Linked DNA regions of Homo sapiens. The protein of the gene in region 1 purifies or fractionates together with the protein of each later gene. This does not show direct contact. Each region holds a gene or a part of one and is shown in the gene's direction. Other genes may lie near its edges.

The links. Proteins that work in one complex are often made in the same cells at the same time.
Region 2: the proteins of LRRC47 (region 1) and ARHGAP19 fractionate together in Homo sapiens (co-fractionation; one large-scale study listed by BioGRID). This does not show direct contact.

Annotation. Positions count from the first base shown.
Region 1 is NC_000001.11:3,786,499-3,789,998, reverse strand, and holds part of LRRC47 (leucine-rich repeat-containing protein 47), read left to right. Parts: intron 1-2,688; coding exon 2,689-3,150; intron 3,151-3,500.
Region 2 is NC_000010.11:97,282,638-97,286,137, reverse strand, and holds part of ARHGAP19 (rho GTPase-activating protein 19), read left to right. Parts: intron 1-3,500. UniProt on the Homo sapiens protein: GTPase activator for the Rho-type GTPases by converting them to an inactive GDP-bound state.

The DNA of each region.
Region 1 (3,500 bases):
CCCCCTGTGTAACTCATCCTCCCCAAAGCCAGTGTGCACCTCACATCCTTGCGGGCGCGCCTGCTTGCTCCCTCACACAAGTGAAAACTGACGCCACCCTCATCCACCCTTCATGTGTGAAATCTCTGGCTTCATTTCCTGCTGAGGCCGCCACTGGGTGCCCAGTGCTGGCCTGAGGGGCCAGCGTGCGACCTCGTCAGCAGGGCCTTGCATTTCTGACAAGGACTCCCCAACATGTGCGGCTTTGCGCCCCACCCAGATGGTGACTCTCTTGCCCTCCCTCTTGCTCTCCTTCCCCCGCTTCCCTTCCTGTCCCCTGACTCCCCACAGAGCCTCCAGGCAGGTCCTGAGCTGCTCAGATGCCCTTTCTCTGACAGTCTTTGCCTGGAAGGAAGACCCTTCTCCGAGTGCCCGCCATCATCCTTTCGGGGACTCACTGCAGGCTGCAGGCTGAACTGGCTGTGGCTGCTCTGGGCGCCCCGGTGGGGCCCCGCCCGCCTCCTTCGCCTCTGCTGCTGCTCCTGGGTCTGAAGGAACTTGCTCTTTGTCAGCGGAGGGAGACGCCGCACTGCGTGTTTGCAGGCAGAAAGGAGGTTCCACTTGAGGGGAACTCTCAAGCTTTTTGACCAAAGCCCCTTAGGGCAGCGCAGAAACCCACAGAGCAGAACCTCAGATGCCTGTGCCCCCGAGCTTCCAACCTCAGAGCTTCCCTTGGCCTCTGCCAGGCAGGCTGTGCCCTGGGCTGGTGGCCCAGGCTGGTTCTAACGCTGGAGCCAGGGCTCTGACAGGGAGGTGAGGAGCTCTAGAAGGCTGAGCTCACGGCCGCACTGTTCCTGGTGCTGCAGGCTGGCGACAGCATTGGTGATACGGCTCCTGGTACTTTGTGAGGCCACCTGGATTCCAGGAGTAGATTGGCTCTCGTCCCATGTGGGGCCGGAAGGGAGGTCTGGGCTGGAGCCACCAGTCCAACAAGTCTATCCCAGCCCAGCCCACCCTGTGCTGAGAAGCACAGAATTGTGGCAGTTCTGTTAGATCCGATGGACGCGTGGCTCAGGTAGTGCCCAGCAGCTGGGCTTGGTCTCAGCCCCTGCCTTGTGTTCTTCCCCAGCAGGCGTCACTGCTGCTTAGACTGCCCCATTCTCTCCCAGAGGGCACGCGAGCCCTTTTATTTCTTTTACACATGCTGTTCCTGCTTGACTGTTAAGTTGTCGCTTCCTCCCTGGGTCTCTGTTCTCCCTGAGGGAACTCATCCAGTGCACCCTCCCATGTCTGAGCCGTGCCACCCTTCCCGCTTCTGAGCGCCATCCCATTTCTGAGCCATGCTGCCCTTACCCGTGTCTGAGCAGCTTGATTGCTTGAGCCGGAGGATTCCAGCAGGTTCCTTTTTTCATTTCCTTCACAACTTGGGGCTTGAGAAATTCCATCACCCCTGCCATCCATTCCAGGCGAAGCAGGAGGTGTCCTCTGAGTAATCAGCCCATCCCCAACTCTGTTCAGAGTCTATCAAGTCCAGCCCTACCTGTCTCCTCCACACCCAGTGTAACTAGGACTCACCAGCCACACTGACCAAGGGCGAGTGCTGGCTTCCAGGGGGCCCACATGCTGTTGCCTCCTCTCTGGGGGCAGAGCCGGCACCGAGGCTGCCAGAGATCCCCGAGGGTCAGGCTTTGCATCCTGAGCAGGGTCTTCCTCCAGCCCTAGAGGAAGCTGGGACAGAAGGGTTTGCTCGCAGTGCCTGCCCCACCACCCAGGCAAGGCTGTGGGGCCTGGGTACCAAGCCAGGAAAGAGCAGAGTGGAGGCGGATGGGCCCCTTTTGCCTGAACCTGCAGCGGCCGCCTCACGTCATGGAAGTGGCTGCCCTCACACGCACGTTCCCTGCGCTGCCCAGACCCTGGGAAAGACATCCTAAGAGTGCATCAGGTGCCACTGTACCCCTTCCATCCTTTCAGTGAGGTCACCTGCACGTTTTGCCAAAGTCTGATCAGTCACGGTCATAGAAAACGCTTTCCCGTGGGCCACGGGGCTTCCTGGGCATCTTTGTGGCACACGGTGGTGGGCCCGATGCACCTGTCCTGGGTCAGACGAAGGCTGAGAACCCATCGCCGTTGAAGTCGGCTTTCCCCTTTCCTTCCTGCGTGAACCCTGAGAGCACTCTGTGTGTCACTGCGGGCAACTTTGCACTTCATTATGAAGAAGAATGCTCTTAGAGATTTTGCTGTATTTTTTTTTTAGCTCATTTAATTAAAAAAAATAACACCACTTTGGGGAACCTGCTTCTCACCTGAGCAGTCCTGGCTAGGTCCCGACATGAGGTCACGTTTCACACCCAGACATCCCCTGTCTCTTGTCACCTTTCTGTTCTCTAACGTGATGATTGAGCTGCAGGGCTGCTGTGGTTGTTAAAGAGGGTGACATGTTTGAGTCAGAAGCTTTTGCAGAGATCACTGTTAACCGTGGCTGACGCCTTCTCCTCGGAGAGGCTCCTCGGATAGTGCCTTTGATGTGGGGTGCAGAGCTGGGGAAGTGACTCAAAGGTGAATGACTTGTGGCTCCCCAGGGACGCGTCCCCACAGACAGGCCAGTGGTGGCTCTTGTGAGTGATGAGTGGTCTCCCTGCCTCTCGAGCATGACCTTGGACTCTCTTCCCAGAGTCCGGGCGTCTGACGCGTCCATGTTTCTCTTTGCAGACGTTGGACCTCTCGAACAACCAGCTGAGCGAGATCCCTGCAGAGCTTGCGGACTGCCCCAAGCTCAAGGAGATCAATTTCCGTGGGAACAAGCTGAGGGACAAGCGCCTGGAGAAGATGGTCAGCGGCTGCCAGACCAGATCCATCCTGGAGTACCTGCGCGTCGGAGGCCGTGGTGGCGGGAAGGGCAAGGGCCGTGCCGAGGGCTCGGAGAAGGAAGAGAGCCGGAGGAAGAGGAGGGAGAGGAAGCAGAGGCGGGAAGGTGGTGATGGGGAGGAGCAGGACGTGGGAGATGCCGGCCGGCTGCTGCTCAGGGTCCTGCACGTCTCTGAAAACCCCGTACCTCTGACAGTCAGAGTGAGCCCCGAGGTCCGGGATGTGCGGCCCTACATTGTGGGGGCCGTGGTGCGAGGCATGGACCTGCAGCCAGGGAATGCACTCAAGCGCTTCCTCACCTCGCAGGTGGGTGCCCGTGGGGGTCCTCAGATGACTGGGACAGAGGTGTGAGACGCCGCAAGCTGGGACACATCCTGAGGCCAGCGTGTCCGAAGGAGCAGCAGTGGAGTATGGGGCCCAGCCGGGTGTCTGTGTGCTTCAGTTTCCTCAGCTCCAAAAAGGGAATAGAGCAGGTTCTGGCTCAGGTGTTGCTGAGGAGGGGGTAAGGCCTCAGTCCCCTCCGGGAGGCAGGTGTCTCCAGCGTGGAGATGGCCTCTTCACAGACGCCTGCACCCTGGCCTGGTTGGTCCTGGTCACTGGTCGTATCCCTTGCTCCTCCACATATGGTGTTAACGGTTTATCCTGATTTTTTTTTT
Region 2 (3,500 bases), on another chromosome or scaffold:
TATCTGAAGGGTAATGAGGAGTAGATTTCTTCAGGGGATTTTCTTGAATCTGGTTTTATTTTACATTTTATCAATGATCAGGTTTAGAGAGTTTGATCATATTTGTAAATAAGGCCTGTCTTGGAAGGAGGGGAAGGAAGAAAACAGAATTTTAAAATTAATCTGCATAAACTGGTAAGTGGCATGAAACCACAGCATAAAGCAAAGCAGATATTGTTGCACAAGTTTACTTTGGTCAGAACAATTGGGTCGGTAGTGTTATAAAGAGTGATATAGGAAATCTGTAAACTTTTTGCTGTAAACATTACATTTGGCTTAGGCCAAGCATGGTGGCTCACGCCTGTAATCGCAGCACTTTGGGAGGCCGAGGCGGGCAGATCACTTGAGGTCAGGAGTTCGAGACTAGCCTGGCCAACATGGTGAAACCCTGTCTCTACTAAAAATATAAAATTAGCTGGGTGTGTGGCGGTTGCCTATAATCCCAGCTACTAGGGAGGCTGAGGCAGGATAATTGCTTGAACCTGGGAGCTGGAGGTTGCAGTGAGCCGAGATTGTGCCACTATACTCCAGCCTGGGCAACAGAGGGAGAGACTCTGTCTCAAAAAAAAAAAAAAAAAAGCAAAAAAAAAAAGAGAAAATTATCTAGGTATGGTGGCACATACCCGCAGTCCCAGCTACTTGGGAGGCTGAAGCAGGAGGATCACTTGAGCTCAAGAGTTTGAGGCTGCAATAAGCTAGAATGCCGCCACTACACTCTGGCCTGGGTGACTGAGACCCTGTTGTTAAAAAAAATAAATAAAAATAAATTTGTTTTAAAAAATTGTATTAAAAAACATAACAGTTTATCATCTTACCTATTAAGTGTGTAGTTAATTAATGTTAACTACATTCGCATTGTTCTGTGTCCAGCCATTTTTTATATGGAACATCTACAACCTACAAATCCATTGAAGCTTTAAGAGTATATACTTTCGGCCTTGCACAGTGTCTCATGCCTGTAATCCCAGCACTTTGGGAGGCGGAGGCGGGCGGATCACCTGAGGTCAGGAGTTTAAGACCAGCCTGGCCAGCATGGTGAAACCCCGTCTCTACTAAAAATACAAAAAATTAGCTGGGTGCAGTGGCATGCACCTGTAATCGCAGCTACTTGGGAGGCTGAGGTAGGAGAATCGCTTGAACCTGGGAGGCGGAGGTTGTGGTGAGCTAAGATCACACCATTGCACTCCAGCCTGGGCGACACAGCGAGACTCAGTCTCACAGGAAAAAAAAAAAAAAAAAAAAAGTATATGCTTTTTTTTCTTTCTTTCTTTTTTGTTAAGAGTATATAGTTTGGCTAAAAGTGGTGGCTCTCATCTGTAATCCTACCACTTTGGGAGGCTGAGGTGGTAGGATCACTTGAGCCCAGGAGTTTGAGACCAGCCTGGGCAACCTAGCAAGACATTGTCTCTACTAAAAATAAAAATAGTTAGCCAGGCGTGGTGGCACATGCCTCTGGTCTCAGCTGCTAGGAAGGCCGAGGCAGGAGGATTGCTTGAGCCTGGGAGGTCAAGGATGCACTGAACCGTGAGTATGCCACCATTCTAGCATGGGCAATAGAACAAGACCTTGCCTCAAAAAACCCCCAGTATATACTTTTTTCCCCTCTTCCCCACTATGAAATAAACTTATATAATATTTACTACAGAAGGCTAGAAAAATATGTAGAAAAAAATGGGGGCTGGTCTGAGTGTCTCACGCCTATAATCCCAGCACTTTGGGAGGCCAAGGTGGGCAGAACACTTGAGGTCAGTAGTTCGAGACCAGCCTGGCCAACATGGTGAAACCCTGTCTCTACTAAAAAGACAAAAATTAGCTGGGCATGGTGTCGCACATCTGTAATCCCAGCTACTTAAGAGGCTGAGGCAAGAGAATCGCTTGAACCTGGGAGGCAGAAGTTGCAGTGAGCCAAGATTGCACCACTGTACTCCAGCTTGGGCAACAGAGTGAGACAATGTCTCAAAAACAAAAAGCAAAAAATACAAATAAAAATAAGAGAAAAAAGCTAGGTGTGGTGGTGTGCACCTGTAGTCCCAGCTACTGGGGAGGATGAGGTGGGAAGATTGCTTGAACCTAGGAGCTTAAGGCTGCAGTGAGCTATGATGACACCACTGTGCTCCAGCCTGGGTGCCAGAGTGAGACCCTGTCTCTAAAAAAAAGAAAAAAAAAGGAAAGAAAAATATGTAGAAAAATGGTAAACTAGCCACTCCAATTTACCAGATAGATACAACCATTATTAATATTGAGACAGTTTTTTTTTTTTTTTTTTTAATAGAGATGAAGTTTCACTATGTTGTCTAGGCGGTCTCAAACTCTTGGGCTCATGTACTCCTCCCACCTTGGCAACCCAAAGTGCTGGGATTACAGGTGTGAGCCACCATGTCTGGTTCCTTCTGAGTCTTAAACTGTAATGCCTCTTATCTAAAATATGACCCATCCAAGATCTGATTTCTATCTTGGTTTCCCAGTTTCCTCCCAATAAGTGCATCATTTCTGGTTGGAAACAGTATAGCAAAAGAGTGATTGAAATACAATTTTTTTTTTTTTTGAGACAGAGTCTCACTCTGTTGCCCAGGCCGGAGTGCAGTGGCATGATCTCAGCTTGCTGCAGCCTCCGTCTCCTGGGTTCAAGCAGTTCTCCTGCCTCGGCCTCCCGAGTAGCTGGGACTACAGGCATGCGCCACCATGCTGGCTAATTTTTGTATTTTTAGTAGAGACGGGGTATCACCATGTTGGCCAGGTTGGTCTCGAACTCTTGACCTCATGATCCACCCACCTCAGCCTCCTGAAGATGCCCTCTGGTCACCTTCAGTGAACACTCTCACCTACACTTTTACTAACCATCTTTTAGGGTGGGTTGTTTCTACAGATGCTGGAGCCTATTTATTTTGTGCTGATGTTTTGCTACTGTTACCCGATATAAACTAAATTCAGCTAGGCCATAGAAACTACATAGTAACAGCCGGGCGGGTGGCTCACGCCTGTAATCCCAGCACTTTGGGAGGCTGAGGTGGGTGGATTGCCTGAGGTCAGGAGTTCAAGACCAGCCTGGCCAATATGGTGAAACCCCGTCTCTACTAAAAATACAAAAATTAGCCAGGCGTGGTGGCAGACGCCTGTAATCCCAGCTACTTGGGAGGCTGGGGCAGGAGAATCGCTTGAACCTGGGAGGTGGAGGTTGCAGTAAGCCGAGATCGCACCACTGCACTCCAGCCTGGGCGACCAGAGTGAGACTCTGTCTCAAAAAAAAAAAAAAAAAAAAGAAAAAAGAAACTACATAGTACTTTAAACAGAGAACATTTAATAGGTTATAAACTATAACTGGGGATTCGAGTAACAAGGAATTGGCTAGTAAGAAGTAAAGAGATCTCTAAGAAATATAGAAATAGATACAGGAATCAGCTGAGTTAGAATGTACAAGGAAGAGGGTCCCTAGGGCAGAGTTCCAGACCTTGCTGGAGATG